Regions from separate parts of the Homo sapiens genome. Here region 2 is linked to region 1. The links come from fine-mapping of genetic effects on gene expression. A gene starts in region 1. The other region holds a variant in brackets. All regions are shown on one strand. Distances are from middle to middle. Region 1 holds the start of ATP8B3 (ATPase phospholipid transporting 8B3). Region 2 holds the start of LOC101928543 (a long non-coding RNA gene).

Region 1 (8,317 bases):
CCTGGCCAACATGACAAAACCCCATCTCTACTAAAGATGCAAAAAATTAGCCGGGCGTGGTTGTGGGTGCCTGTAATCCCAGCTACTTGGGAGTCTCAGGCAGGAGAATCACTAGAACCCGGGAGGCAGAGGTTGCAGTGAGCCGAGATCTCGCCACTGCATTCCAGCCTGGGCGACAGAGCGAGACTCCATCTTAAAACAAAACAGAAAAAAGAAAAAAGAGGCTGGGCGCAGTGGCTTACGCCTGTAATCCCAGCACTTTGGGAGGCCGAGGTGGGTGGATCACCTGAGATCAGGAGTTCGAGACCAGCCTGGCCAACATGGTGAAACTGTCTCTACTAAAAATACAAAAATTAGTCAGGCGTGGTGGTGCATGCCTGTAATCCCAGCTACTTGGGAGGCTGAGGCAGGAGAATTGCTTGAACCCCGGAGGTGGAGGTTGCAGTGAGCCGAGATGTCGCCACTGCACTCCAGCCTGGGCAACAGAGGGAGACTCTGTCTCAAAAAAAAAAAAGAAAGAAAGAAAAAGAAAACGAAAACCAAAAAAAGAAAACTATCGAGCAAATACAAGCAGAGGCAGGACTCAGGAGGAGCAAAAAATAGATTCCCCGAGGGTACCACGGCAGCTCCTCTGGAGCAGGGAGGCGCGGGAGGGGCCGCCCACCTTGTATTTCTTCCTTTGCCAGCACAGGATCACCTTCTCCTTGAACTGCCCGTTGTAGGCACGGTTGTTGGCCTGGACCTTCCAGGTGAATGCTGCAGCGAGAGAGCCGGGCGTCGCTGGAGCTCGAGGCCCAGGACAAACACCCCTAATGACCGCCCGGAGGAGGGCTCATGGGGCCCGTGGGACCCAGGCACTGGGGAGGCCCGAGATGTCAGAGCCCGTAAACAGACAGTCGGGCAGCAGGCACCACCTGGGGACCTACCAGACCCTGCCCATAGTTGGCGCCGGCACAAGTGGATTCCGAGAGTGGCCACCCACACCCCCAGCCAGGGGCCTGTCCTGAGACGCAGAGAACAGGCCCTGGGAGACCGTTCAGGCCTGTACATTTTACAGAGGGGGGTAAACTGAGGCTTGGTGATGGGCTCTTGGGTGTCCAAGGCCATACATCCAGCTGGCGGCCCAGATCTTTCTGGGCATGCAGCCCCCAAATCCTGAGCCAAATCCCCCAAACCCAGTCAGTACTAGGGTTGGAGACTACTAGAAACCAAATGAGAATCCTAGGCAAGGCCTGACGTGCAGGTCTGGGGGCCCCAGCCCGTCTCAGCCTCAGCCCTGCACTTTTTTCTTTTTTTTGAGATGGAGTCTCGCTCTGTCACCCAGGCTGGAGTGCAGTAGCACAATCGCAGCTCACTGCAACCTCCACCTCCTGGGTCTCCTGGGTTCAAGTGATTCTCCTGTCTCAGCCTCCCAAGTAGCTAGAATTACAGGCATACGCCACCACGCCCAGCTAATCTTCGTACTTTTAGTAGAAACGGGGTTTCTCCATGTTGCCCAGGCTCTCGAACCCCTGACCTCAAGTGATCCACCCGCCTCAGCCTCCCAAAGTGCCGGGATTACAGGGGAGAGCCACCACGCCTGGCCAGCCCTGAACTTCATAATCCCTCCCACCTGCACCGCCCCCTCTGCCCAGGATCAGCACCTGAGTTCCTGTCCTCATCTTGGAGATCTTCTCTCTGGCCGAGGCTGCCCATGCTGGTGGGGCTGTGGGAGAGAAGGGCCCCGGGTCACAGCAGTGACCCCAGCCCTTGCTGGGCACCACTCGGTCTTCAAGGAGCTCACAGCCTAGGGGCCGACCCTCTCAAATGCTACCTCCCACACTCATCTGCAGCCTCCCCGCCAGGCTCTGAATGTCCAGCCATAGGCTGTGTGTCTTGCCTTGGACATCCTGAGACCTAGGGGACCCCAAGATGATCCTCAAACCTGCAACAGCCCATCTGCCAGTGTCCCCCGCCAGCCACCCTGGTCGCCTCCCGCCAGTACAGCCTAGAAGGACTCTACCGCCAGCCATGCCAGCCTCTGGCCATGCCAGCCTCCGGCCACTGCTCCCCACACCTCGCTTTTCCTGAAAGGACCACTCTCACCTCCTCCTGGTTTCACTGACGGCCTCCTGCCCCTCTCCCCATGTGGCACCAGCTTAGGGGCTCAGTCATCTGTTCACTGACTGAATGGGACCCCCGGGCTATATGTTATATCTCAAAACACAGCATGAGGGTCAGGCATGGCCACTCCCCTCCTCACCCCCCCAGGCTGGGCAGCAAACTCTGATGGGGGCGATGGAGGCAGACGGACATCGTCAGAAGATCCTGGAATCTTCTCCACTAGCAGGTTCAGGAATGTGGGTCTGGCTCTAGCCCTGCACCGGGGGCCCTGGTTTGGCCCCCTATGAGGATGGGCAAACCACCCCTAGACGCCAGCAACTGGCCCCCCACCTGCCAGCTCTCTAGCAGTGCCCTCCCCGCCAAGCCCCTGCCCCTGTGTTCCGGCCACCCGATGCACCCGTCCTCACCCTTCTGGTCTCCATTCATACTTCCTAGCCCGGCCAGGCTGGGCCTTGTGCCTCCTCTCAGGTGCCCCTCTGCCTGGGGAGTCTCCCATCCCAGCTCTGATCACCGTCTCACCTCCGCGGATGCCAGCAGGACCTGAGCCTTCCTGAGTCACGTCTGAGTCACCCGTGTCCCCAGGTCCTGGTGGGGCAGGGCTTGGCTCAGGGCCAGCTCTGGTGCTCCTGGGAGTCTGAGCGGGGCCAGTGCCCATTCACCGCATGAGGAAAAGGGAGGTTCAGGGCGAAGAGGGGTTTAGGCTGTGGGACGGGGGAGAGGTGGGGGAGACCCCCGTGGGGGCAGACTGGGGATTGGAGAGTTGGAGAGAATGCTCAAATGGCCAGAATCCACTCGAAGTGTATCTGGGGGCAGAAAGAGACACGGACACAGCGCTGGCTTCCTGCCCCCTCACTAACTGGGATGCCCCATTACTCGGAAGCCCCCCACCCCGTCTTCCCGCAGCCGCAGGGGCACAGGACCGCCCTGGACAGGGCTCCAGAGTCCAGGGCTGTCTGCACCCGCCCCGGGGCCCCGACCGCGCGAACCTCTAGGGGCGCGCTCTCCACCCCCGCCGCCACGACCCCAGCTCTCAGCCTGGGTGGAGCCCAGAGAGGGTGCGCGGGCTCCCGGGGACGCACAGCAGTGGGAGCACCCGCCGCTCACCGGCGCAGGAGAGGCAGGGGGGGGCAGGCCGCGGGCGTCCAGGGCGGCGGACGTGGTGGAACCGTTAGCCCGGTGCCAACGGTCCTGAAACGGGGGGCGGGATCTCGGGGCGGGGCCTCGGGGCCCGGCCAAGGCGAAGGTGGAGCCAGTTCGGACCCCGGAAGGGGGCCGGGGGCGGGGCCTGGAGGGGGTGGGTGGGGCCAAGGCGAAGAAGGGGCGGGGCCTCGAGGGTGGGGCCGAGCGGAGCACGGCCGAGCAGGATGGGGGCCAGGCCTCAGGGACGCGGTCACGGCCGAAGGGCGGGGCCTCGCAGAGCCTCGCAGAACAGGCCGGGATAGAAGACGCTCGGGAGCAGTGCCTGGGTCTGGGGAGGGGCCGGGACTTTGGGGAAGGGACTAGAAGGAAGGCGAGGACGAGCGGGGTCTCGCTGAGCAAAGTCAGAGTAGGGGCGGGGCCAGGACTCAGGGGCTTGGCCAGAGCGGGAAGCGGGGTTGAGCATGGCCTTGCGGAGCAGTGTTATGGTAGGGGCGGGGCTGGGATCCGGAGCCGTTACAAAGGAGGAAGGCGGGGCCGCGCAGAGCAGGGTCAGGGTAGGAGGGCGCTCAGGGTGGGTCCAGGACAGAAGGCAGGGCCTTGGGAGGGCCTTAGGGAGCAGTGCCAGTGCAGGGGCGGAGCCTGAAAGGGAAGAGGGTGTCAGGGCAGGGCCGGGCCGGGCTTGGTCAGGGAGCAGAAAGAACCTGCACCGCAGGGCGGGGTTGGAAGGGTTCTTGGAAAGGTGGGCCTGGGTCAGGTCGGAATGGGCCTTGCAGACCTGACGGGGCTGAGGCTGGTGCGGCCAGCGTGGCAGAGTGCAGGAGGAAGGACCACAGGTAACGGCGGTTATGTAAGTCATGTCTGATCCGTGTCCTGGGTTCGTTCATTCATCCCATACACGTTCAACGAGCGCCTCCTAGGCGCAGATGCAGGGCTGAGCACCAGGCTGGGGAGAGGCGGTTATAGCCATTGAGACCACCCTAAGGCCAAGAGGAAGCCCGCAGGGTTCTTTCCAGCAGGTGGCAGGGGCTCAGGGATCCTTACTGAAGAAGTGGCAGGGGTGAGTTCAGCGACGAGGCTAGGGCGGGTCCAGGCCAGCGATAGGGCCTGGAGCCAGGGTCAGAAAGTGTGTGCGGAGGGGCTGCTGAAGATGAAATGCCCCCAAGAGTGAGGCTACCTGGGGTGAGGGCCCAAAGGGAGAGGCAAACATGGGTGGAGGGGGATAGGGAAGCCACCTCCCCCATCAAAGCGGCAACCACCTGAGGGCTCTCGGTGATCACAAACCCTCTTTCTTTGGAAGCCCAAATTGGAAGCCTGCTTGGCCCTGGAGGCTGCCAGGGAACCTCTCTTTTTTTGGAGACAGAGTCTCACTGTGTCACCCGGGCTGGAGTGCAGTGGTGCGATCAGAGCTCACTGCAGCCTCCACCTCCTGGGCTCAAGCGATCCTCCTGCCTCAGCCTCCAGAGTAGCTGGGACCACAAGCAGGCAGGCAGGCCACTGTGTTTGACTTCTCTCCTTTCATTCCTTCAACACTTCCCCTGTGCTTGCTTGCTTGCTCAGTGGTTACGAAAAAAAGCCGGGGCTGGGAGTTTGAACACACTGTTCTAATAAACTTTAGAAGAGACCTGGTTGGGTGCAGCTGTGAGGACCAGATTCCCCCACCCCAGCCTTCGCAGGGGGCACTATCTGGGGGCAGGAGCTTGCCCAGGGCACTTGTGCAAAGGCCCTGAAGCCTCCAGTGGCAACAGGTGGCTTCACAAGCTGAAGGGAGTCCCTGGGGGCTGAAGCCAGGGCTGGCCAGCCTTGGGACCCCCCGTGGGCTATGTCCTGAGGCACCAGGTGCGTTCTGGGAAGGGGGAGGCAGACATCACATGGGAATGCACAGAAACAGAGCGCATACACGCCTGCGCCATTTATTTAGAACACAGAGCCGGGCACAGTGGCTCATGCCTGTAATCCCAACGCTTTGGGAGGCCGAGGCAGGTGGATCACTTGAGGTCAGGAGTTCGAGACCAGCTTGGCCAACGTGGTGAAACCCCATCTCTACTAAAAATACGAAATTAGCCAGGTGTGATGGCACAGCCATAATCCCAGCTACTCGGCAGACAGAGGTTGCAGCCAGCTGAGACTGGGTGACAAAGCGAGACTGTGTCTCAAAAATAAAGAAGAAAAAGAAAACAACTCCTTTACAGAAGAGGTGGGAGAGTCACTAGTCACAAGAACAGCCCTCGAGGGTGGAAGGGCCTGGCCTAACCACGGTCCCCCAGGAGGGCCCTGGAGAGATGCAGAGCCCAGAACCGGGAAGGGAGCCTTGGGATGGAGTCCTCTGGGGAGGGCCCCCACGTCCTCATCCCGGGACCTGTGCCCTTGGCCTTGCCCTTCAGCAGAAGCCCAAGACCAGGGTGGCAGGAAACCCACTCCAGGCAACCTGCCCCCAGCTGCTGGGTCCTGTCCCGCAAGGCTCATCACTTTTTCTACTTGAGGTCAATAAAAAGTGGGGCCTAAACACCCCTGGGCCTCCCATTTCCAAATGGGGTCCCGATGCAACCACAGTTGCCCGAGACGTGCGTGCACTACACAATGTGTGGCGTTTCCTGGCAAGGGCCGGAGCAGCTTTCCGTGTCTGCACTCCATCCTTTGACGGGCAACACACAGCAGCTCCCAGTCTCTTTAACCCCCTCTCACCATCTGTGTGCAGTCCCTATCTCTGGGCAGGGCAGAGAGGGAAGCCAGCTCTGTGCACAGGGCCCAGCTCCACACAGGGCTGGGGACACCACCCACTGTCCGAGAGGCACTAGAAGCTGCAGGATGGTGGCCCATGATCTGGGGCTGGAACTGGGACCCCACAGCAGGTGTGGCCCAGCCCTGGGGGAGCCAGCCCTGGGCCAGCTTTTGTGAGGGAAAGTTTCACTGCTCTGTTTTCTCTGCGTTGATGGGAAGAGAATCAGTCCCGGCTGCAGGGACAGTGGCCTCCCCGGGGCACATGCAGAGGCCTCACCAGGCACCAAGACCAAGACCACCACAAAATCTAAAATCCATACAAACATTTATTCTGTCCCTGCCTGGAGGTGAGGGGGAAGGGGGTCCGGAGAGCCCCGCAGAGGAGGACGGGGCTCTAGCGGGAAGACAGTGTCCGGAGGCCGGTGGGCTCCCTCTAGACGGCAGACCCTGGGGCTAACGAGGGGCCAGCTGGGTTCTCAGAGGTCACGGAGTGCAGGGGTGGGGCGGCGAGTGGTGGAAGCCGGCGCCCCCGAAGACCGGCCAGCCCCTGGAGCACAGAGGCGGGTCCAGCCCACACTGCGCTGAGTGTGGCCCTGGCCCCCACTGGGGTCTGTCCCACCCCCACCCCGCAGGAGGGAAGGCAGCAGGCCCGCTCTTCCCGGTGGGAAAGATGCTGTGCAAGTCATCAGGTTTAAATTAAAAATAATAAAAATAACAATACAAAATAAAAAAAGACTGTCTCAAACAAACCTGGGACAAGCCCGCCCCGCGACCCACGTGAGGAGCAGAGGTGCCGGCCACCACCCGGGAGGGAGGGCCTGGCAGGAGGGGCAGGAGGGGCTGCGGGCCGGGTGGGGGCGGGCTCTGTCCTGGTCTCCATCAGCAGCAGTTTCTAGAGACGCCAGAGGGCTGGGGGGCAGAGGGTGGGGACCGGCGGAGGGGTGCGGCAGGACGTGAGCGGGGGTGGGCTGGGCTGGGCGTTCTCTGGCCGCCAGCTCATCCCGCTGCTCTGGGCTGCCTCGGCCAGGTGGACGGGTTACCGGAGATTTATTGCACTGTTTTGGAAGAGGCATGGGGCTAAGGACCAGCGGGACGGCAGGAGAGGCGGGTGGGAGGCGGGCAGGCGTCATCGCTTGGTCTTGGCGTCTTCTCGAACCTTCCAGATCACCAGGTGCATGCAGGCGCCGGCGTCCTCGCTGGAGCTGTGCCCATCCACTGCGGGGCAGATGCGGTGAGCACCCGGCCCCTGCGCAGGGACGGCCCCAGGGCAGGCACCGGCACTCACCATTGTCCTGGATGATCTGTCTGAGGTAGTCGGCCATGAGGTTCCGCAGGGACCGCTTGTAGGGGAGGCCCAGGCGGTGGGGGAAGAGCACAGACGTGTCCACCACGGTGCTGTGGATGACCTGTGGGCAGCGGCAGAGATCAGCGCACGTGGGGCCTGCGCAGGTCCTGCTGGAGAACCGCGCGGGACCCGGGCCGGCAGGGCACCTTCAGGGCCAGGAGGTCGCTCTCCAGGCTGTGTCCGATGAGGATGGTGTCAGCGCTGAACATGCTCAGCAGAACGGCCTGGACGTCACGCAGCGTGACACTTGTGTCGGCAAGGTCAGCCTCCGTCACCCCCGAAAACCTGGGGGAACGGGCAGGAGGGGCACCAGGGCTCAGCCTGGAAGCACTGGCTGGTGGGGCGGGGGAGGGTGGGTCCCTGGGGAGAGGCGGCTGGGAGGGCTCCCAGCTCGTGGAGGGCACTGGCCACACCTGGTGTTGTAGTCCACGATCTCGTTGTCAGGCTTCACGAAGGTGTCATAAACCACGTGCACGTCCGTGTCGACCACCGTGACGCGCGTCAGCTCCAGGCCATATGTGGTGTAGGACTGCGGGCAAGGGATGCACCTCAGATGTGTCCCAGGCACCGGCCTCCCTCCCTCCCCTTCCCTGCCCCTTTGAGTCTCCAGAGCCCCTCCAGGCAGAGGCAGTGACCAGAGACTCTGTGGGACTTCTAGGAGAGGCCGAGTGGGGTGTGACCTCAGTAACCCCCTTTCGCAAAGCCCTCCTGCCTCCCATTCAGAGGCAGAGCCGGGGCCCAGTGCCCGGTGTGCTTGGCTCTGCTGGGAAGTATGGGGTGTTGGTCCAGGGCAGGAGCCACAGGCACCGGTGCTGCGAGAGAAACCCTGAGCGCTGGCCGGTGAGCCAGGCCCAGATGGGGCCAGATGGGGCGGCCGCACCAGGCCAGGTCCTCCCCAATCCTGAACCCGACGCTGGGCAGAGAACAGCCTCACCATCTCGCAGTCCAGGGCGTAGATCCCCGGGTGGGTGTCTCCTGAGAGCTCTTTCTCAAAGGTCTTCACGAAGCCCT
Region 2 (8,317 bases), 41 kb before region 1:
AGAGAGAACCGTCGTGCAAAGGAGCTGAGTGAGTGAGGCCAGCGGGGGAGGCCAGACAGAGAGGCGGCTGGTGGTGGATGGGGAGAGGGAAGCGGCTGGAAGAGCTCAGGAGCCCAGGAAGGACTGGCCTGCACCGGGACATGCCTGAAGGGGGCGCACTGTCTTTACAAAGGAAGGGACTGAGGCCTCCAAGGGAATGGGACTCGCCTGGGGTCCCAGAGCAAGCTTGACAGCCTGGCCCCGCCCCACTCCTCCGCCAGCTTGGTGGCCAAGGTCTGTGTTGGGGGCCACTCTCTATCCCCCCGACTACAGGTCGGGAGCTGCTGGTGATGGAACCAGGGGCTGAGTATGCAGTGCTGGCCACATACTAGGAGAATCCCAGGATGGGGTTCAGCAGTGTTGATGAGGATAATGAAGGAAATCAGGGGGAGGTGAAGAAAACAGAGGAAGGGGGTGAGTAAAAGAAAGGTCATGGAGGAGGTGTGGGGAGGTGGAAGGTGGAGGTGATGGAGGTGGTGATGGGGGTGGAAGGTGGAGACGATGGAGGAGGTGGCGGAGGTAGAGGTGGAGGTGGTGGAGGTGGAGGTGGTGGAGGTGGAGGTGGTGGAGGTGAAGGTGGAGGAGGTAGAGGTAGAGGTGCTGGAGGTGGAGGTAATGGAGGTGGAAGTGGAGGTGGAGGTGATGGTGGAGGTGGTGGAGGTGGAAGTGGAGGTGGAGGTGACGGTGGAGGTGGTGGAGTTGCTGGAGGTGGAGGTGGTGGAAGTGGAGGTGGAGGTGATGGAGGAGGAGATGCTGGAGGTGGAGGTGATGGAGATGGAGGTGGAGGTCGTGGCGGTGGAGGTGGTGAAGGAAGAGGTGCTGGAGGTGGAGGTGATGGAGGTGGAGGTGGTGAAGGAAGAGGTGATGAAGGAGGAGGTGGAGGTGCTGGAGGTGGTGGAGGAGGAGGAGGTGCTGGAGTTGGAGGTGATATGGAGGGTGTGATGGGATAGCACTGACATTGGTGGTGCAGGAGTGATGGTGGAGGAGAGGACGGAGGTGGAGACCTCATTGGAGGCTGGTGGAGGTCGCGTGGCAGAGGTGGCAATGGTGGGCCCTGGCAGCATGAGGCTGGTGGTTGGTACCAGGGCCAAGTCCAGGGCTTCACCCCCGTCCCCACTCTGAACCCCATCAGTCCTTCTCTCCAAGTCTCAGTTTTCACTTCTGCACAAGGGGTCCATAACCACCATGGCCTCTGGGTTGGCACAGGGGTGGCCTTTAGGATTGGTGTGGGGGTGAACCTGATGTTGGGTGGGGTGCTGGCGGGGGTCAGGTGGCGGTGGTGATGGGTAGGGGATGCACAGAGGGGGCATCCAGGCGGCCCCCCTACTCCAACTCACACCTCTGTCAGCGGCTGTGGGGGATGGGAGCAATGACAAAGCTGCTCGCGGTAAACAGCTCCGACTGGATCGATCTGGGCTGTGAGGAGCTGTAATTAGATTGAACGCCGGGAAGGGGGGCAGCAGAGCCTCTTTTTGCTGCAATCGACAAAACGGGAAGTTTTTTCAGACTCTGCCTGGCCCGGCCCCTCCCCCAGCCTCTGCCTCTGGGGTCCCCATTAGGCACCAGATTGGAGCCTGGGAGGTGGGGTGGGAAAGGGACGATATGCATCCTACCTCCCTCCCCCATCTAGGCCAGTGGACTCTGTTTTCTGGGCTGCCCTATTGGGACTGGCTGGGCAAGCCTGAGGGGTGGCTCACATTCTCTGAGTAAATAAGGAGAAAACCCCCTGCCTTGTAGAATTATTGTAAGGATTGAGGCTGGGTACTGTGATTCATGCCTGTAACCCCAGCACTTTGGGAAGCTGAAGCTAGAGGATTGCTTGAACCCAGGAGTTAGAGACCAGCCTGGACAACATAGTGAGACCACATTTCTACAAACAAACAAAAAACATATATATATGTTTGTGGGGGTTTTTTGTTTTTTGTTTTTTAATTAGCCAGATGTGGTGATGTGCACCCGTGGTCCCACCTACTTGGGAGGCTGAGGTGGAAGGATTGCTTGAGCCCAGGAGTTCAAGGATGCAGTGAGTCATGATTGCACCACTGCACTCCAGCCTGGGCGACACAGCAAGACCCTGTCTCAAAACAAAACAAGAATTATTGTTAAGAATTGAGTGACCAGATACATATAAAGCTCTTGACACAAAGCTCTTGTGAGCTTTCTGAGGAGCATTTGTATTTCTGTCCCTACTGTAAATGTAGGATAAATTTGTGAGTAAATTGCTAAGTGAATGAATAAATGAGTGAGTGAATGAATTAAACATTACAACAGGTGAGCGAGAAGGGCCTCCCTTGGAATTTCAAGGCCCCGGTTGAGTTTTGACTCAGCTTTCCCTTTGAAAGAATGGAGGACTGGGTCCTCTCCTGTAATCCTCATAGGGTGGCCGAGTGCCAAAGAGGTGAGAGGTCAATTCAGTTTTTTGCATTTCCTTCCATGTTTCTTTATGCAGATAAAATATAAACATAGGTTCTTGTCTCTCCTTTCACACATAAAAGGCTCCCTGGTACACTGTTCACCCTTCAGGATTTCCTTTGCCATCTTTCCAGATTCATACCCATACTCTCCCTCTCTGTCAGTCTCTCAATATAATTACAAATACAGTCTGTTGCCTAAATTAACATTTAGTAATTAACATTATTACGCTTTTGGAAAACATTGTCCACAGCTGAGCCATGTAGAGTACTAGGACTGCATTTCCTTTCCTGTACAACTCTTTGGTTTTCCAGGAGTTGATAGCTGCCAAACAAAAATTCTTCCCACGCTCCCCAACAAAATTTAAAACCAACTCAATAGGACTTTCCACACATATTAGGTCATCTCTGATCTGGGTGGGGCTGCCCTCCATACCCTGGGTCCTTTTGTCTAGCTGTCTTCCAGGGTCCCCCTCATCCTGATTTGGAGGACCCCTTTTCTCTTTCAGCTAGGTTGGATCACATTTTCTGAATCCCACACCATCCTTTTTTTATTTACCTCCTCGTTTGAATGGAACACATCCTCCAGTAGCTTTCTGAGAAAGGGTATGTGGGAAGTTAAGTTTTGGAGTCCTTGAACATCCGATTATATCTTTATTGCACCTTCATGTTTGGTCTTTTGTTATTTAGCAATTCTAGCTGAAAATAACTTTTCCTTGGAACTTTGAAAGCCTTGCTCTGTTGTCTGCTAGTTTTTGCACACCCAAAGCTGCTTGGATTCTTGATCCTTTGCATGACATCTGGCTTTCCTCTAGGCGCTTTTTAGGATTTTCTCTTTATTCTTGGTGCTCTGAAATTTCACAACAACGAGGCTTGAGTGTCTTTTTCATTCAATGAGCTGAGGACTTGATGTCCCACCCCCATTTTTTTAGAGCTGGGGTCTCGCTCTGTCATCCAGGCTGGAGTGCAGTATCATGATCATAACTCACTGCAGCCTTGACCTTCTGGGCTCAAATGATCCTCCTACCTCAGCATCCTGAATAACTGGGACCACAGGTGTGAGTCACCATGCCTGGCTAATTTTAAATTTTTTGTAGCAATGGGGTCTCACTATATTCTCCAAGCTGCTCTCAACCTCTTGGGCTCAAGTGATCCTCCCACCTCAGCCTCCCAAAGTGCTGGGATTAGAGGCATGAGCCACTTCATCCAGCCTATTTAGTTATTATTTATTTATTTATTTATTTATTTATTTATTTATTTATTTTTGAGACGGAGTCTCGCTCTGTTGCCCAGGCTGGAGTGAGTGGTGTGATCTCAGCTCACACCTCTGCTTACTGGGTTCAAGCGACTCTCCTGCCTCAGCCTCCCCAGTAGCTGGGATTCCAAGCACCTGCCACCACACTCAGCTAATTTTTTTTGTATTTTTTGTGGAGACAGAGTTTCATCATGTTGACCAGGCTGGTCTCGAACTCCTGACCTCAAGCGATCCACCTACCTTGGCCTCCCAAAGTGCTGGGATTACAAGAATGAGCCACCATGCCCAGTGGGCCTATTTATATTTAAAAATTATTTATTTTAAAAGAGAGTCTTACTCTGTCACCCAGGCTGGAGTGCAGTGGTGAGATCATGCTCACTGTAGCCTTGAACCCCCAGCCTCAAGTGTTCCTCCTGCCTCAGCCTCCCAAAATGCTGAGATTACAGGCATGAGCCACTGCACCTGACCACATTTAAACTGGAAACTCATCTTTCAACGCTAGATTTTTTTTCATTATTTGATCATCTCTTCCTCTATTTTTGAACTGTCTCTTGATCAGGTGACAACCCTGCTTCATCTTAATTCATCCTCTAACTTTTTATTCTCTTTCATTTCCCATCTTTGCAGCTGCTTGTGTTCCATTTTCTGGGATATCTGCTTTACTCTTTTTTTTTTTTTTTTTTTTTTTTGAGATGGAGTTTCACTCTTGTTGCCCAGGCTGAAATGCAATGGCACGATCTTGGCTCACCACAACTTCTGCCTCCCAGATTCAAGCAATTCTCCTGCCTCAGCCTCCCGAGTAGCTGGGATTACAGGCATGCACCACCACGTCCAGCTAATTTTTTTTTTTTTTTTTTTTTTTTAGTAGAGACAGGGTTTCACCGTGTTAGCCAGGATGGTCTTGATCTCCTGACCTCGTGATCCGCCCGCCTCGGCCTCCCAAAGTGCTGGGATTACAGGCGTGAGCCACCGCGCCCGGCCAATATCTGCTTAACTTTATCTTCCAGTCCTTACATGGAATTATTTTACTCTGGCTGTTATATATTCACATTTTAAGAGCATTTCCTCACTCTCTAATGGTCCCTTTTACTTAACAGCATCCTGTACTTGTTTCATGGATACGATATTTTTCTCTTACTCCTCTGGGAATATTAATTATAGCTTTGCCTGCCTTGTCGGTTCCTTCTGAGTTTATTCCTCCCCCACCAAACCATTTTTCTCCATTGTTCTCCCCCCTCCTGCCTCCCTCCCTCTCTCTCTCTCCCTCTCTTTTTCATGTTAGACGCTTTTCTAAAATGTGCAGTAACCCACAGGCATCACTTGCATTTAATCATAAAACCTGAAACCGCAGTTAGAAGCCCCACACATTCCAGGTCAGAGGGAGTGAAGTGTGCGTCAGCTCACACCCTAGACGGG[T/C]GAACCTGTTGTCCCCGAGACATGAGTCATGGCAGAAGGAACATTCATTTATTTCTGTGGACGTGTATGGACATTGATCTAGCATGTCATGTTCCAGGCTGTTCTGCAACGAAAAGAAAAGCTCTCTGTGCCATTCCAGTAGGCCACGACGGCTGGCACAGAGAAGAGACTGGGAGCAGAGACCCACTAGTACTACCTGCACCACCGGCCACTTCTGGGGGTCACAGAGTAGCTGGAACTCCGGGATGGAGACAAGGGCAGGACAGCCTCTTCAGCACCACAGTCCCAGTCTGGATGCAGGAGAGAAATTGAGATTCTGATGGAGTTTCAAGCTGATGCCACAAATGAGCCCATCTGACTTGTGGCCCAGCTCCTAGTGGGGGAAGCCTGTGTTTTGTACCCACTGACACCCACTGCATTGAGGGGAGGGGTTCACTTCGCTGCTGGAGCAGGAAGAGCAGGACTCGGCTTCAGCCCTGCCCCATCACCCCGAGCCTTTGCTTTTCTCCCCTTTGCAAGTGTCTGGTCTGCAGGCCATGGGGCAGCCTCCTTCAGCCCTCTCCGTGATCTGTGCGGGCTGACCAAGAGGAAGGGTGACCTGCTCATCTGGGAGAGGAAGAGGTGGTCCCTGCACTCTCCCCTCCTCCTCCAAAGTCTTCTTTCTTAGATGTTCTGCGCTCCAGAGGGTCCACTGGGTGCTCGAGGGAGGCCAAGTCTGGGTGGTCTCAGCCTGTGGATAGGGGCAGGAGCAGGAGGCAGGGATTCAGATGTCGGAATTGGGCTGTGGACTCACAGGGTCCCTAAGGGTATCAGGCCTTACAGGAGTGTCGCTGCTGCTCATTCGTAGAGCTTGGTTGTCACAGCCAGTTGCCATGGCACACACCTGTAATCCCAGTGCTTTGGGAGGCTGAGGCCAGAGGATCACTTGAGGCCAGGCGTTCGAGACCAGCCTGGGCAACATAGCAAGACTTCCCCTCCGCAAAAAAAAAAAAGAAAAGAAAGAAAGGAAAGGCCCTGGTTAGCCCACCATTTCTGGGGAAGGCTGCTGGGTTTTGTGATGCACCCCAGGACCTAGTAATTAACCAGTTATTTCACCCAAGTCTACACTGAGCCAAAAACTCTCATGTGCAGTTTCCATGTCATTTCCCCAACACCCCCAGGTTGGGGCTGCAGAAAGGAGAGGAGAAAGTTACCAATATCAATTTCTGTGGTCCTTTAGGTAGGGAGCGTTTGAGGGTAGGACGGGGTTTGGGGGGTATGAGGCTTGGGGGGTGCCTGAGTGGGCTCCATGGAGAAGGGGGCTGGAGGGGGTGGTAGCCATGCCTGCAGAGGGGCACTCACACTGTGTCCCCTTCTTTGTCCTCCCCCCACCCCCACCGCATCTGCTTTCCCTGCCTGTCCTCGCCTTCCATTCTGTCTCCACCGCCCTCTGGCTGCATCCTGGACTTTCCTGTTGTCTCCCTGTTGACCTTGCTGTTTCCCTGTCTCTGTCTCTGTGCGTCCCTGTGTTCCCCGCTGTCTCCCCCTCCGCCTCTCCCTGCATTCTTGTTGCTTCTGGGCTCTCCCTGGGACCTTATGTGCATTCGCCTTTCCCCAACGTGTCCCTTCTCCCCTCCTCCTCATCCTCCGGGCGGCGTGCGCCTCCTGCCTCTCCCCGGCCGGCCACACGGTGGCGCTGTGTCCCGCTCGCCCGCCCGCCCGCCGCTCGCCCGCAGCCTGCAAGCGCAAGGAACAGGAGCAGCAGAAGGAGCGCGCCCTGCAGCCCAAGAAGCAGCGCCTGGTGTTCACCGACCTGCAGCGACGCACGCTGATCGCCATCTTCAAGGAGAACAAGCGGCCGTCCAAGGAGATGCAGGTCACCATCTCGCAGCAGCTCGGCTTGGAGCTCAACACCGTCAGCAACTTCTTCATGAACGCGCGGCGCCGCTGCATGAACCGCTGGGCTGAGGAGCCCAGCACGGCCCCCGGGGGCCCCGCCGGCGCCACGGCCACTTTCTCCAAGGCCTGAGGCGCCCCGGCCCCGCGCCCTCCCTGCCTCCACGGCCTGGGCGCTGTGCCCCCACGTCACCTCCCCACATCCTGCCGGCCCGGAGACCCGCCCCCAGGGGGCACCTGGAGGGGGTGCTATCCGGGCCCCCCACACCCGGGGAGGGGGAAGCAGCACACCCCCCAGCCCAAGTGCACAAAAAGGGCCCCCCTTCCTCCCTCCATGCCCACTCCCTCCAGGCCAAAGGAAGCCCTCCACCCCCCCCCGGAGGGGAGGGAGTGACAGAAAGGGGTTTCCCAGCCCCCTCTCCATTCAGGACGCCCAGAGGGCCTCGAGAAAAACCAGGGCTCACTGTGTTGTCCCCTAAAGCGGGTCAAGAAGCACATACTAGAAATATAAACCGGGTATTTAAAAATGGAATTTTAAAGAATAACCCCTCCTCCGTCAGATCCCCTGCCCCACCGAGGGAGGTAGTAGAAAACTTCCTTCCTCCCCACCCGCCCCGGCCCCCTCCCCAGGGACCTCAGCCCTTTCCAAAGTCGCCAAAAACCCACATCAAGCCGGATCCTTACGGTCCCCCACCCTCTCCAAAACCAACCCCACCCGCTGGCAGGACGGCCCCTGCGGCCGAGAACTGAGCTGCCCCTCTCTGCGGCCAGGATTCCTCGTGCCAAGAATCGCCTGCCTTAAAGTCTGGGGAGGGGCCTGCGGCGGGCGCCCAGCACCTACGGGCGAGCACCCTTCCCACCCCATCCCAGGCCGCAGGGGACGGGGGGCTCCCACGTGCGGGTAAATTCCAGACGCCCCCGCCCCGCCCCGTCTGTTGAGTTCACTTTACCTTTAGGCACCTTCGTGGAGCGCAAGGAAGGACGCAGCTCCGGACACGGGAGACCACGCCCAGGCTCCCAGGAGAAGGGGACCCGGCCGGAGAAGGCGCCGCTGGGGCCGCCCGGAGGAGCCCCTCTGCACGGGCCCGTGGAGACGCTTCCTGCGTGGAACCTTCTGGAATCCACCGCCCCCCTTTCCGCCCGCGTCAGGGTCTGAACTGGGCTTGCAGGGGGGCAGCGGGGTTGAACGTGGTGTTGGTTTCCACTCTCGCCAAAGAGAGAAGACGCCGAGGAAGGTGGATTCCGCTTGCTCCATTTTTTGCCAAAAATATTTACAAATGGGAAGGGTCGGAAATGAAGATGAGCGCCCCCCTCCCACCCC

Evidence for each region.
Region 2: its variant is fine-mapped to the expression of ATP8B3 in unexposed skin (GTEx, PIP above 0.99).

Annotation. Positions count from the first base shown.
Region 1 is chr19:1,808,979-1,817,295 of GRCh38, forward strand. ATP8B3 (ATPase phospholipid transporting 8B3) reads right to left here and starts at 3,298. Exons shown (of 29, transcript NM_138813.4): 1 at 3,208-3,298; 2 at 2,511-2,906; 3 at 1,644-1,705; 4 at 665-756. The coding sequence starts at 2,758. It overlaps REXO1 (RNA exonuclease 1 homolog), which reads right to left. Exons shown (of 16, transcript NM_020695.4): 12 at 8,241-8,317; 13 at 7,720-7,835; 14 at 7,453-7,591; 15 at 7,247-7,367; 16 at 6,270-7,176. The coding sequence ends at 7,088. MIR1909 (microRNA 1909) reads right to left here and starts at 7,260; the gene lies at 7,181-7,260. RefSeq lists enhancers at 2,806-3,551, 3,932-4,091 and a silencer at 3,012-3,381.
Region 2 is chr19:1,768,317-1,776,633 of GRCh38, forward strand. It overlaps ONECUT3 (one cut homeobox 3), which reads left to right. Exons shown (of 2, transcript NM_001080488.2): 2 at 6,837-8,317. The coding sequence ends at 7,129. LOC101928543 (a long non-coding RNA gene) reads right to left here and starts at 6,034. Exons shown (of 5, transcript XR_007067085.1): 1 at 5,942-6,034; 2 at 5,720-5,851; 3 at 5,318-5,411; 4 at 5,127-5,224; 5 at 1,451-1,514. The variant T/C (reference allele first, on the strand shown) is at 5,122.